2 separate regions of the Homo sapiens genome follow, and region 1 is linked to region 2. Evidence: fine-mapped expression QTL. Tissue or cell type: whole blood. Region 2 holds a variant in brackets; the other region holds the start of a gene. All regions are shown on one strand. Distances are from middle to middle.

Region 1 (6,327 bases), 65 kb after region 2:
GTATATTTAGTGGAAATGGGGTTTCACCATGTTGGCCAGGTTGGTCTCGAACTGCTGAGCTTGTGATCCACCTGCCTCGGCCCCCCAGAGTGCTGGGATTACAGGTGTGAGCCACTAGCCTGGCCAATTTTTACATTTTCAAAGAAACTAAAGAGCCACTTATCTGGGAGGTTTAGTTAAATTAATGAACAAAAATAGCAATGAGCCAGAGTCCCAGAACTTTGGAACTTTTGAGTCACAAACACCCTAGTGTTTTGGCCTTTGAGTCAAACTTATGGTTTATCCCTGCTTCTGCCTCGTTGACAGCCAAAGCTTATGGTTCAGCAACACAGATTACAGTCCTGCCAGAGATGGTAACTGTGAACTGTGCTATTGAATTTTATGAAAAGCTGGATGTGTGACTGAGAAGTCTTGATAGTTTGAAGATGTCATTTCCCTCAGAATTAATTTATAAATTCCAATTAATATACATACGTGGTTATATGTTTTACTTACTATGAGGCTAGTTTTCATGTGGAAGAATAAATAGGTAAAAAGAACGAAAAATGCTTGACAAAAGGACTTGCACTTCCAGATGTTAAAAAATGTTATGCTATTAACAGCATGGTACTGGAGGAAAAGAGAACAGATATTGAAACAGAATAGAAACTTAGAAACAGAAACATTCATATGGAAGTACTGAAAATATCTTTTTTTTTTTTTGACAGTCTCGCTCTGTTGCCCAGGCTGGAGTGCAGTGGCACGATCTCGGCTCACTGCAAGCTCCGCCTCCCGGGTTCATGCCATTCTCCTGCCTCAACCTCCCGAGTAGCTGGGACTACGGGTGCCCACCACCACGCCCAGCTAATTTTTTTGTGTTTTTAGTAGAGACGGGGTTTCACTGTGTTAGCCAGGATGGTCTCGATCTCCTGACCTTGTGATCTGCCCACCTTGGCCTCCCAAAGTGCTGGGATTACAGGCATGAGCCACCACGCCCAGCCAGTGAAAAGATCTTTAAAATTGGTGACAAAGAAGGGATTAGTCAATATATTTTGTTGGGATAATGCCTCATAACACCTACACAATAAATTCCTCAGATAAGTTAAATATGTAAATATGAAAAATTAAAAAGAGTTTAAAATAATCTAAGATTACATAATAAAAATAAAATATTGATAGATTTGACTAAAAAGGAAAAACGCATGTGTACACATATATATCACAGTGGACCCTTGAACGACACAGGGGTTGGGACGCTGACTCTGCTATGCAGTTGAAAATTTGCAAGTAACTTTTGACTACCCCCAAACTTAACTACTAATAGCCTACTATTGATCAGAATCTTAACTGATAACATAGACAATTAACACATATTTTGTATGTTATATATATTATATACAGTACTGTTACAATAAAATGAGTTAGAGGAAAGAAAATGTTATTAAGCAAATAACAAGGAAGAGAAAACATTTACTATTTATTACATGGAAGTGGATCATCATAAAGATCTTCATACTCGTCGTCTTGCAGTGAGTAGGCTGAGGAGGAGGAGGAGGAAGAGGAGAGTTGGTCTTGCTGTCTCAGGGGTGGCAGAGGCAGAAGAAAATCTGCATGTAAGTGGACCTGAGAGGTTCCAACACATGTTGTTCAAGGGTCAACTCTATAATCCATAAAACCAACTAAAAAATTAATACACCAATAGAAAAAAATAGGAATAGGTAACTCTTGAACAAAATTTTAAACCAGTATCTGAAAAATCTACATTATTTGTAATAAAAATAATTAAATACCATCTTCATTTATTCCATTGGAAAAGGTGAAAATTAGCAAGAATGCAAGGTCAGTTGTTCTCTTACACACTGCTAAGGGGAGTATAAAGTGGCACAACTTGCCCTGTCATATTATTCCCATTTTATAATTGAAAGTCCTGGAGTTTACAGGGTAACTCGCCTAAGGTTCCTTTGCTTGTAAAGGTAAAAGTGATTTGAATCCAATCTATCCAACTTTAAAGGGTACTAATGCAAGCCAAAAACATTAAAAATATTTCTACATTCTGACCCCAAAATAGCATTTCTAAGAATGTGCCTAAAGACATTAACAGAAATGAACACAAAGATGTGTGCCATAGCAATGGTCCGAATAGCAAATAAATTGGACAGATAAAATTTCCAGCAATAGGAATTGGCCAATGAATTACAGTAATTTATATTTAAAATAAAATACTATGTAGTAATCAAAAATTGTATCTAGACAAATAACTATGTAGAGAGAAACAGTCATGGATATGGTTAACTGCAAATAAATTTAAAATAGTATGATTCAGATTTGTGGAAAGAATAAAATAAAAGTAGAATGAAATGCTTGGTTACACAAAGGCTGGGAAAGCATATACTAGAAGGCAGAAGTGGCAATCTCTGTTTGGAGGAATTAATGTTTTTTGTTTGTAATCTGCCACTCTTAAATTTTTCTCAATGAAAGAATTTTATCTTAATATCAGAAAAGTTAGAGTTTTATAGAGAAAAGGTAAAAAGTGATATTTACGGATTATTGCTGGAGAGGCTTTTGGTCCATCTCTTCCAGAAGAGAAGATCAAAGGAGAGAGCACCCCTCCTCCCCAGGCAAATCCGATCAGTGGATGTGGTTCTGGTTCCTTTGTTTTATCTGAAAAATGGAAGATATCACCTACAAATCTGGAATCTTGGTTTCTCTTGAAAAATCAAAAGTTCTGGTGATACTGGGTTCATATTTCTGAATGGCAGCAACTGAGCAGTGGCTGCCCCATTGAAAGACAGCAAGACTGGGAGCCTCACAGTACACAGGAAGCATAAGGTAAGTTTGAAACAGGGTGGATCTCAGACAGCTAACGTTTGCACCTCTCAAAGGAAGAAGATTCTGACAAGTGTGACAAATACCCATGTATGTACATACATGTTTACCATAATATATCTTTGGAACATTTAATTCTTCCTTAGTTACCTTTTTTAAGCTCCTAGAAGAAATAACACTAACTAGAAAAAAAATTTCCTATATCAATCTTAAGGCAGATATAATAATAATGTATTAGAATTTAGACATTGAATTCAAAGTCAAGGACTCAAAGCTTTGCATCTCAGAAGGTTCTAGTGTCTTGAGGCTTCATTTTCTTTGTAGCTACATCATTGAACTAAAATGCACAAACCTTTATTTAGCAGACATTGGCTGAATGTAATTCTCGTTACATAGCTCAGTGTGTACGTGATAGTGCAGGTGATAGCTGAACATTTTATAGCTCTGAGTAGTGGCAAGAACTTACATTATTAAAATATTACAACTATTTTTTTGGAGTTACTCATTTGTTAGAACACATGAAAGGTGACTTCTGTATCCACCTATATTGCTCAGCTGGTAGAGTCAAGCTGGGCTCTCTTGATCTGTTAACACTAAGTGCTGGTCTGACTTTGTAGGCCTCTTCAGGAAGAAGGGGATGCAAGGTAGTGGATCTTCTTAATGCAGTGTGACTCAAAGTGAAACTTGGAAACACCCTTGCAGGGCGTGCGATGGGTGTGACTCGCTTCTTCAGTACCCTGCAGCTCAAACCCCTAGAGGGAGCATGCAGACGGGCAGGTCATGGGGAGCATGGGCTCCTACCCCATGGCAGCACCTAGGGTTGAGTGTTTACAGCTCCAGAAGCCCCAGTGGGAGTGTGTTACAGTGCAGTCTTTCAGCTTAGCCATCCGCAGGTGGCTTGTGTTAATCAGCTCAATTAGATCCTCTGCCTTATCGCAAGGACAGAGGGCTTTCTGTATCCCAAGGTTCTTGCCTTAATGTACCAGAAAAATTGAATCACATGTAGGCTTGGAGAATGGGTGCACAGTTTTATTGACTGGTGGAAGTAGCTCTCAGCAGATGGATGGGATCCACAAGGGGAATGGAATGGGAAGGCGGTCTTCCCCTGGAGTCAGGCCGCTCAGTGGCCTGACTCTCCTCCAACCACCCCCAGGCAAATTCTACGTGGTCCACATCATACTGCTGTTGATGTCCTGCCAGTCTGTCAGTGTATTCTGCCAGTGTGTTCCTCTTGATGTCCAGCCGCTTGTGTCTGTGCCCGCTAGGGTCTCAGGGTTTTTATAGGCAGAGGATGGGGGTGTGGCGGGCCAGAGTGCTTTTGGAAAATGCAACATTTGGGCGTGAAAACAGGAGTGCCTGTTCTCACTTACGTCCATGGGTACAGGCCTGAGGGTGGAGCCCTAGCCAGGGACCCCATTCTTCTCTACCCAGCACTTCCCTGCCCGCCTCCCGTATCAAAAGCAAAGCACAGATGGGAGGTGTGGAGACACAAAAAGGCATAGGACCCTGTGTTTCTCATGAGTGACAAATGCTCATGCTTCTGCCAGCCCTAGGTTCATGTGAGGACGGGCCAGAATGTTCAAACTTTTGTTTATGCAAAAGCACTCTATTTATTTATTATTATTATTATTATTATTATTATTATTATTATTATTTTTGAGATGGAGTCTCCCTTTGTCACCCAGGCTGGAGTGTAATGGCACGATCTCAGCTCACTGCAACTTCCACCTCCTGGGTTTAAGCGATTCTCCTGCCTCAGCCTCCTGAGTATCTGGGACTACAGGCACGTGCCACCACGCCCAGCTAAGTTTTTGTATTTTTAGTAGAGATGGGGTTTCACTGTGTTAGCCAGGATGATCTCGATCTCCTGACCTCATGAACCGCCTGCCTCGGCCTCCTAAAGTGCTGAGATTACAGGCATGAGTCACCACGCCCAGCCCGAAGCACTCTTTTTAGAGTTGGCCCAAAAGGTAAAATTCATACCAATTGGTAGGCTATAGTCCATCATTAAATATGAGTCTGTGTGTCTGAATTTGTGTGTATGTGTGTGTGTTAGAGAGAGATAAAGAGAGACAGACAGAGACAGAGAGCAGTACTGAGCAAGAGAGTGAGTGAGCATGGGGAAGAAAGTAAGGAGGAGAGGAAAAGGTTATGTGAATGATTAACAAGTAAAAAATAATGTTACTGAAACACCAGGGGTTCAGTTTAGGTCCTGCTATTTGCTGCACAGAAAGCCAACGACTGAGACAACAAGTATTGCCAAGGAAGAAGGCTTTAATCAGGTGCTGCAGTCCAGGAAATGGGAGCTCAGTCTCAAATCCATCTTCCTGATCAACTAAAATTAGAGGTTTATATAGCGGGGAAGAAATGTTAAATATGTATGGGAAAACAAGAATGTGGAAGGAGTAAGGGAGCAATTACAATGAATGAGAGGCTGGTATCTCATTGTCTGGATCTGGTGAGTTTCAAGCTTTAAAACCAGAAGGATTAATTTCTATATTTAAGAAAAACTGTCTATGGGACTACTGGATCAGTTTCAGTAAGATAGGCATATTAGAAATAAAGACTGTAAGGATTATAATAGCACATAGCTTTCCTCTTTAGATTGTTCCAAGGTAAACTTATTTTTAAAAATCCTTACATTCCAATCTTAACTGCTGCCTACTCACTTCTACCATTCTTTGATTACATATGGGAACAAATGTGGCACACCAATATAAAGGTGAGAGTAGTTGGAAGAAGAGGAAAAATATTTATTCATATATTAGGTCATCCAAAAAGCTTAAGATATGAGAAAATTCAGTATTTCTATAACCAGGCCAAAAACTAACTTGTCATTTCAAACTCCTTGGCATTTGGAAGCTTGAAAAATGCTTGCCTGGGCACCTATTCCTGGTAAAGTGCTAAGGAGAGACGCCTAAGGAAATTGAGGGGTCAGCCTGATGTTGGCTTAATCCTGGCTCCATTGTCTTCTGATCACATCACCCTTCTTATCTAATTGATGTGATCACTTGTTGAGTTATCTCATCCAGTTATTCTCTTCCTGGTACAGTCTTCTATCCACTGTTGCAGAAGTATCTGCAGTAATTCAGGACAGCGCCGCTTTTCCCAGGAAGGGGTATTAGTGAAGCTGTCATTCTACCTTTCTGGAGAGCCTGATGGGCAGACTGGAGCTTGAGGTGTTATTGAAGGGTGCAGAGGTTGCTGCTGATCCCCTGTGTTTCTCTCTGTTGAACTCAGAATTCAGAATTTTATTTTTAAGAATGATTTTCCAACTTACCTAATATAAGAACAAGGGGTGTACTTCATGAAAATATTGATTCCTAAGCCCTTTCTTAGAAGATTCTGATTCAGGTGGGTAGAGTGAGTTCTTATAGTATTTCTAATCATTACCATTGATTCTTATGATCAGCCAAGTTTGAGGAGCAATTGAAAGATTTATTATGATTTATTTCCAATGTACAGAGCCCTATAGGTCAAAGTTAGCACACCATCCCCAAATGTCATTATGCACAAATTATA
Region 2 (6,327 bases):
TGTTGCTCATTTCTATGCATTTCAATTTTAGAAGATAAAATGTTAAGAAGATATTTTTAAAAGTATTAAGGTTTTGTTATTACTATTATCTTTTTTCTTTTTAAATGCCTTTTTATAGCTGCAGTACCATGCCATATAATCCAAATTCAAAATAATAACAGTGGTTATTTTCTGATGCTAAATCATTAAACTAATAATTTTATTCACTATACAACTGGGTACGTTGGGCGGAGTGGGGGCAGCTAAGAAACACCTCACTTATTCTTGTTGAAAATCTAAGACAATCAGCTTTGAGGAAATAAGAAAAATATCTTTCTAGAAATATGAGTTAAGAGGACAGTCAGCTGAACTGCATGCAAATCAAAGTTGATCAACTGTCTAGCTGACCAGAATGTGAACAGATGATACCTATAAAAGACGAAAAAGGTGATAAGGAATCTACAATCCTCTTATATCAAGGCTTTTACAAGCACATAGGAAAGCCTCAGTAGATCTACTTTCTGTGAACACAGAATGACTAACAAGACCTAAACCAAGTGAAGGAACGCCTAGAAAAATAAAATTATCAAAATTAAGAAGAAGTTCCTATAATCTTATACAAATTTAGTTGGAAGATAAAAGTCTTTCCACAAAGAAAATACCAAGAAAGACTTGAGGGTTTTACAGACAAAATCTACTTAACTTTTGAAACAGAGTGTTCAAATTTATGCAAAATTTTTCAAGAAAAAGGAAAGGAGGCCAGGCATGGTGGCTCACACCTGTAATCCCAGCACTTTGGAAGGACGAGTCAGGAGGATCACCTAAAGCCAGGAGTTCAAGACCAGCCTAGCCAACATAGCGAAACCCCACCTCTACTAAAAATACAAAAATTAGCCGACACAGTAGCATGCACCTGTAATCCCAGCTACTTGGGAGGCTGAGGCATGAGAATTGCTTGAACCGGGAAGCAGAGCCGAGATCACACCACTGCACTGCAACCTGGGAGACAGAGCAAGACTGTCTCAAAAAAAAAGAAAAGAAAAAAAAGGAATACTCTCTAACCCATCCTTTGAAGCCTCTATGACACTGATCCCCAAACCTGAAAGAACAGTGTAAGAAAGGAAAAGTGCAGTCACTCTCGTTCATGAACAAAGTTGCAGATATTAGAAACAAGGAACAACTAACTTGAATTTATTATACCTCAGAAACTCAAGGGTAGTTTGACATTGGTAAGGGAACTATAGCAAATTAAAAGAAAACATGATTGATTTACCCATTACGTTTCACATACTATCATACTAAAATCTCAGTTTGGGGGCCACTGTTATAGAAAGATTCGGGGCAGAAAAGAGGTAGGTTTTGAGAAACGTGGTGTATGAACAGTATGATTGTTGGGCACAGCAGCTCACACCCAGTAATCCCAATACTTTGGGAGGCTGAGGCTGAGGGTTACTTGAGGCCAGGAGTTTGAGAGAAGCCAGGGCAACATAGCAAGGCTCTATCTCTACAAAAACAATAATAAATGTTGGGAGGCCGAGGCGGGTGGATCACCTTAGGTCAGGAGTTTGAGACCAGCCTGGCTAACATGGTGAAACCCTGTCTCTACTAAAAATACAAAAAAGTAGCCAGGTGTGGTGGCACATTCCTGTAATCCCAGCTACCCGGGGGACTGAGACAGGAGAATCGTTTGAACCTGGGGGACAGAGGTTGTGGTGAGCCAAGATGGTGCCACTGTGCTCCAGCCTAGGCAACAGAGTGAGACTCCGTCTCAAAAAATAAATAAATAAATAAATAAATAAATAAATAAATAAATAAATAATAAAATTACAACAGTTCCATAATTTTACTTGGATTATCTAAACATGTGTAAACGTCATATACTGCATTAATTAACTAATTAAAGATGAAAAAACATGACCATTTCAAATAACGCAGAAAAAGTATCTTATAATATCCCTCTATGATTAAAGAAAAAAACTTTTGTCAAAATAAGAGAAATTTTCAAAACCTATAAAGTTATATACCAAAAACCTAGAGCTAACATATTTTTTTTTTTTGAGACAAGGTCTCACTCTGTCACCCAGGCTGAAGTGCAGTGGCGTGATCACAGCTCAGTGCAGCCTCAAACTTCCAGGCACAAGTGATCAACTGTCCCAACAGATGGGCCTACAGGGCCATGCCACCACATCTGGTTAATTTTTGTATTTTTTGTAGAGACAGGTCTTGCCATGTTGCCCAGGCTGGTCTTGAACCCCTGGGCTTAAGTGATCTGCTACCTTGGCCTCCCAAATTGTTGGGATTACAGGCATGAGCCACCACGCCTGACAGATATGATTTTTAATGGTGAAATTTTAAAAGAATAATCTTTAAAATCAGAAGCAACACAAAGGTGCTTTATTAAACTCTTACTCAGCCTATACTGAAATTCTAGTCAGAGTAGTAAGACAGGAAAATAAAAGGTATAAAAATTGAAAAGATAGAAACGAAATTGTCAATATTCATAGATGATGTGATTGTTCAAGAGAAAACTTAAAATCATGCATATGTAATTTGTTACAGCTGAGTTTTTCAGAGCAACTGAATACAAGATAAATATTCTAACATACGCTAACATAGAAAATACAATTTTTTACAATTATATTTTG[CA/C]AAAAAAAAAAATTAAATTGCAAAAAAAACCTTATAAGATACCTAGGAATAAAACTAACAAAAAATGTGGAAGACTTTTAAGAAAATTATGAAACTATAAAATATTAATGAGACTTAAATAAATGGATAGCCTATTATGTTCACAGCTAGCAAGATTCAATATTGTAAGAAAGTCATCTTTCTCCAAGTAGAGCTGCTGATTCAATATTTCTGTCAAAATCCCAAACCTATCAAAAACCACAATTTTTTTTATCAGAACTTGACTAGCTGATTCTAAAACTCATTTGAAAGATTAAAAACCTCAAGAATGACCAAGGCATTCTTAAAGAATAATAAAGCAGTGATGGGAAAGTATCAAGACATTTTACAGCTATGTAAGTAAGGAAGTTGGTATTGATGCAGGGATAGATGACTTTACTAGCGGAAAACAGCAGAGCTTCTAGACACAGAGCCATGGAAACAACAGAGATGGCATCACGAATCTGAGGAAGAGAATGACTATTTTCTGAAAGGTGCAAGAAAATTTTCTATCCATAAGGAAAAAAAAAATCCCATATGGCTTAAGAAGTTAAATTTTAAGAGCAAAAACTTAAAAAAATTTAAAGAAAATATAGAAATATTTCTTATCACTTCAAGGTAAGAAAGGATTTCCTAAAAGTGTTACCAGTGGAGGGCCTTGACTACAAGTTGTCCAGGTTCTTGGCGTTTTGAACAAAGAATTGGAAGAAATGCACAACAAAGCCATGAAATAAAGAAGCAACAAAAATCAGATTTATTGAAACAAAAGTATACTCCACAGAGTGGGAGCGGGCTCAAGCTGGCTGCTCAAGAGAATTTTCTGGGTTTTAAATAGCCTCTAGTGGTTTCCCACTGGTGACTCGGTTTACACCCTATGTAAATACAGGAGAGGCCCACGACCAGTCTGATTGGTTGTGGAAGGTGACCAATCAGTGGCTGAAGTTACAAAATTACACTCTATGCAAATGTCTGATTGGTTGTGGGAAGGGACCAGAGGCTGAAGTGAAGTAGTGAAGTAACAAAGTTATATCCCAATGCAAATGAAGACTAGGCCTGCTACCAGTCTGACTGGTTGCAAGAGGGGACCAATCAGAGGTTGATATGGTTTGGCTCTGTGTCCCCACCCAAATCTCATCTTGTAGCTCCCATAATTCCCACCTGTTGTGGGAAGGACCAGTTGGGAGATGATTGAATCATGGGGGCAAGTCTTTCTCATGCTGTTCTCATGGTAGTGAATGGGTCTCACAAGATCCAATGGTTTTAAAAACGGGAGTTTCTCTGCACAAGCTCTCTGTTTGCCTGTTGCCATCCACAGAAGATGTGACTTTCTCCTCCTTGCCTTCTGACATAATTGTGAGGCCTCCCCAGTCATGTGTAACTGTAAGTTCAATAAGCCTCTTTATTTTGTAAATTGCCCGGTCTCAGGTATGTCTTTATCAGCAGTGTGAAAACAGACTAATACAGAGGTACTTTCCATTTTTCATCTGCCACACAGAGGCGGGTGGGAGATTGCAAAGGGAGTAGCCTCTGGTCCTTTTGTTACCTGGGCATGAAAAGTTGGGGTTTTCCTTTTGATTCAGTTCGAGGAAGTTGGTGCAAATTGGCCTTAGGCTTCCTGCCTTCAGACCCTATTCTCCTGCCTCAGAAGCACTGATCATAAGACAAATGATTGATAACTCTAACTACATTAAAATTGCAACCTTGTCTTTCCTTGTCAAAAGACACCAGAAAGAAATTTAAAAGGCAAGGCACAAACTGTGAGAAGATATTGGGAACAAATATAATTAGTAAAGGAGTAGAATACAGAATATACAAAGGATTTTTACAAGTAAATTGAAAAAAAGGCAGCCTCATAGAAAAATAAGCAAAAGACATGAACAGACACTTTACAGAGGAGGAAACATGAATATTTCATAAACATATGAAAAGATGATCACCCTCATACATAACTAAAATGGAAGCCAAACACAGTACCATTGTATTCCCAATAGATTGGAAGTGGGGTGGTGGCATTGCATGGGGGTGGGGTGAGTGGAAAAGAAATCAGATGATTAACGAGTGCTGCTCAGGGAGCTTAATCATCCAGGAAAATAATTTGGCACTGTCTTACAGAGTTGAATATCTGCACACCCTGTGAGCCAGTGAGCCAGCAAATCCACTCCTAAGTATAAATCCTTGAAAAAAATCTTCACATATGCTTCAAGACACACATACAAGAATAATCACAGCAGCATAGTTCATAACAGCCAACACTGGAAACAAATCAAATATCCGTTAAGAAGAGAAGAGCCAAATAAACTGGTTGCCTGTCACAATAGATTAAACCAACAGGAAAACGAATAAACTACACTCAACTGAACAACCTGGATGAATTCCAGTGACATTACATTGATTGAAAAAAAGGAACTTATCAAAGCCAACATATAGTTTTCATATCATTTTGTAAACCTTAAAAACAAGCAAAACTAGAATTTGTTTTAGGCTGGGGTAGTGAAGGAAAATTCGTGGAAGATGAGGAACTGATCAGATTTTAAGGGATAATAGAATTTGAAAGAAGAAAGGACAGTTCTGGGTGGAGAGACAGGAAGGGCAGAGCATGTTACGGGAATGTTTAGCAGAGCAAATCTGAAGATTGTGGAAAACCATAGACGGCCAGGGTTTAAAGCTGGGACTTAAAGGCGATGAAATCTTTTAATTGAGGTTGGAAGAATAGCTAGGAAACTTGTGAATGCAGAGATAGAGATTTGATATTTCTTTTAAATTATCTAGATTTAGATATATAGAAAGGGAGAAAATTATAGGAGCAGGAGAACCAGGATAATGGATTGTCAACGAAGCCAAGGAGTTTCAAATGTAAAATGTGGAAGGTGGTGAAAAGAAAAATAAAAATCTTTAAGCTTCAGATATGTCAGATCTTCATTTACTTTCAAGCTTTGTTTGTATATGTTTTAAACTGTTGAACATAAAAATGGACTACAGAGGATTTATTCAAATAAAATATGTGCTTGAAAAAAAAACAAGCAAAACTAAGCAATATATCCCTTAAGAATTCATGCATATGTGACAATGTCATTTATTTTTAAAACAGGTGAATGATAAACATAAAATTCAGAATAGTGATTAGTTCTAGAGGCCTGTGGTGTTGGAAAGGCAGGTGACAGGAGAGGGGAGGAAAACTCAGGCACACACAATGGTGCAGGCAGTGTTCTAGTTCTAAAGTTAAATGCTGAGTTAACAGTGTTTATTTTGTCTCATAAACTACATATATGTTACGTATGTAGTTTTTCTTCTGTATGTCTCAAATGCATAGAATGACAATTTCTTAAGTAAGAAAACATTTTAATTTTTTAAAGTACAGAAAAAATGTTTTAATTATCTAAATGGCTTTCTTTCATCTACTGAAATATAGTAGAAGTTATATAATTGCTGATATTGACATTTAGATATTACTGTATTTATAATGTACTACTTCCTCCAAAACTCTTACCCAATCATGAAAATAAAGTTTCTAGATAACTTCCACCTGATCAGACTGATGGGATTAACACAGTGTTGGTGGGTTGTATTCTAGACTGAAGTGATTTTCCTAATTATTAAAAAGCTACATCAGAATTTAAAATTCTCACCATTTTAATGATTTACATATTGTTAGATTTATATATTGTTAGATATACTGTTAATGAT

What was found. PIP is the estimated chance that this variant, and not a neighbour inherited with it, causes the effect.
Region 1: SAMD3 starts here. The variant in region 2 is fine-mapped to the expression of SAMD3 in whole blood (INTERVAL, PIP above 0.99).

What each region holds. Positions count from the first base shown.
Region 1 is chr6:130,220,174-130,226,500 of GRCh38, forward strand. It overlaps SAMD3 (sterile alpha motif domain containing 3), which reads right to left and starts at 2,778. Exons shown (of 12, transcript NM_001017373.4): 1 at 2,521-2,778. RefSeq lists an enhancer at 3,385-3,494.
Region 2 is chr6:130,155,321-130,161,647 of GRCh38, forward strand. The region is part of intron 8 of SAMD3 (sterile alpha motif domain containing 3); the gene reads right to left. Among named protein-coding and RNA genes, the nearest start is that of SAMD3, 64 kb to the right of the region's middle. The variant CA/C (reference allele first, on the strand shown) is at 2,625.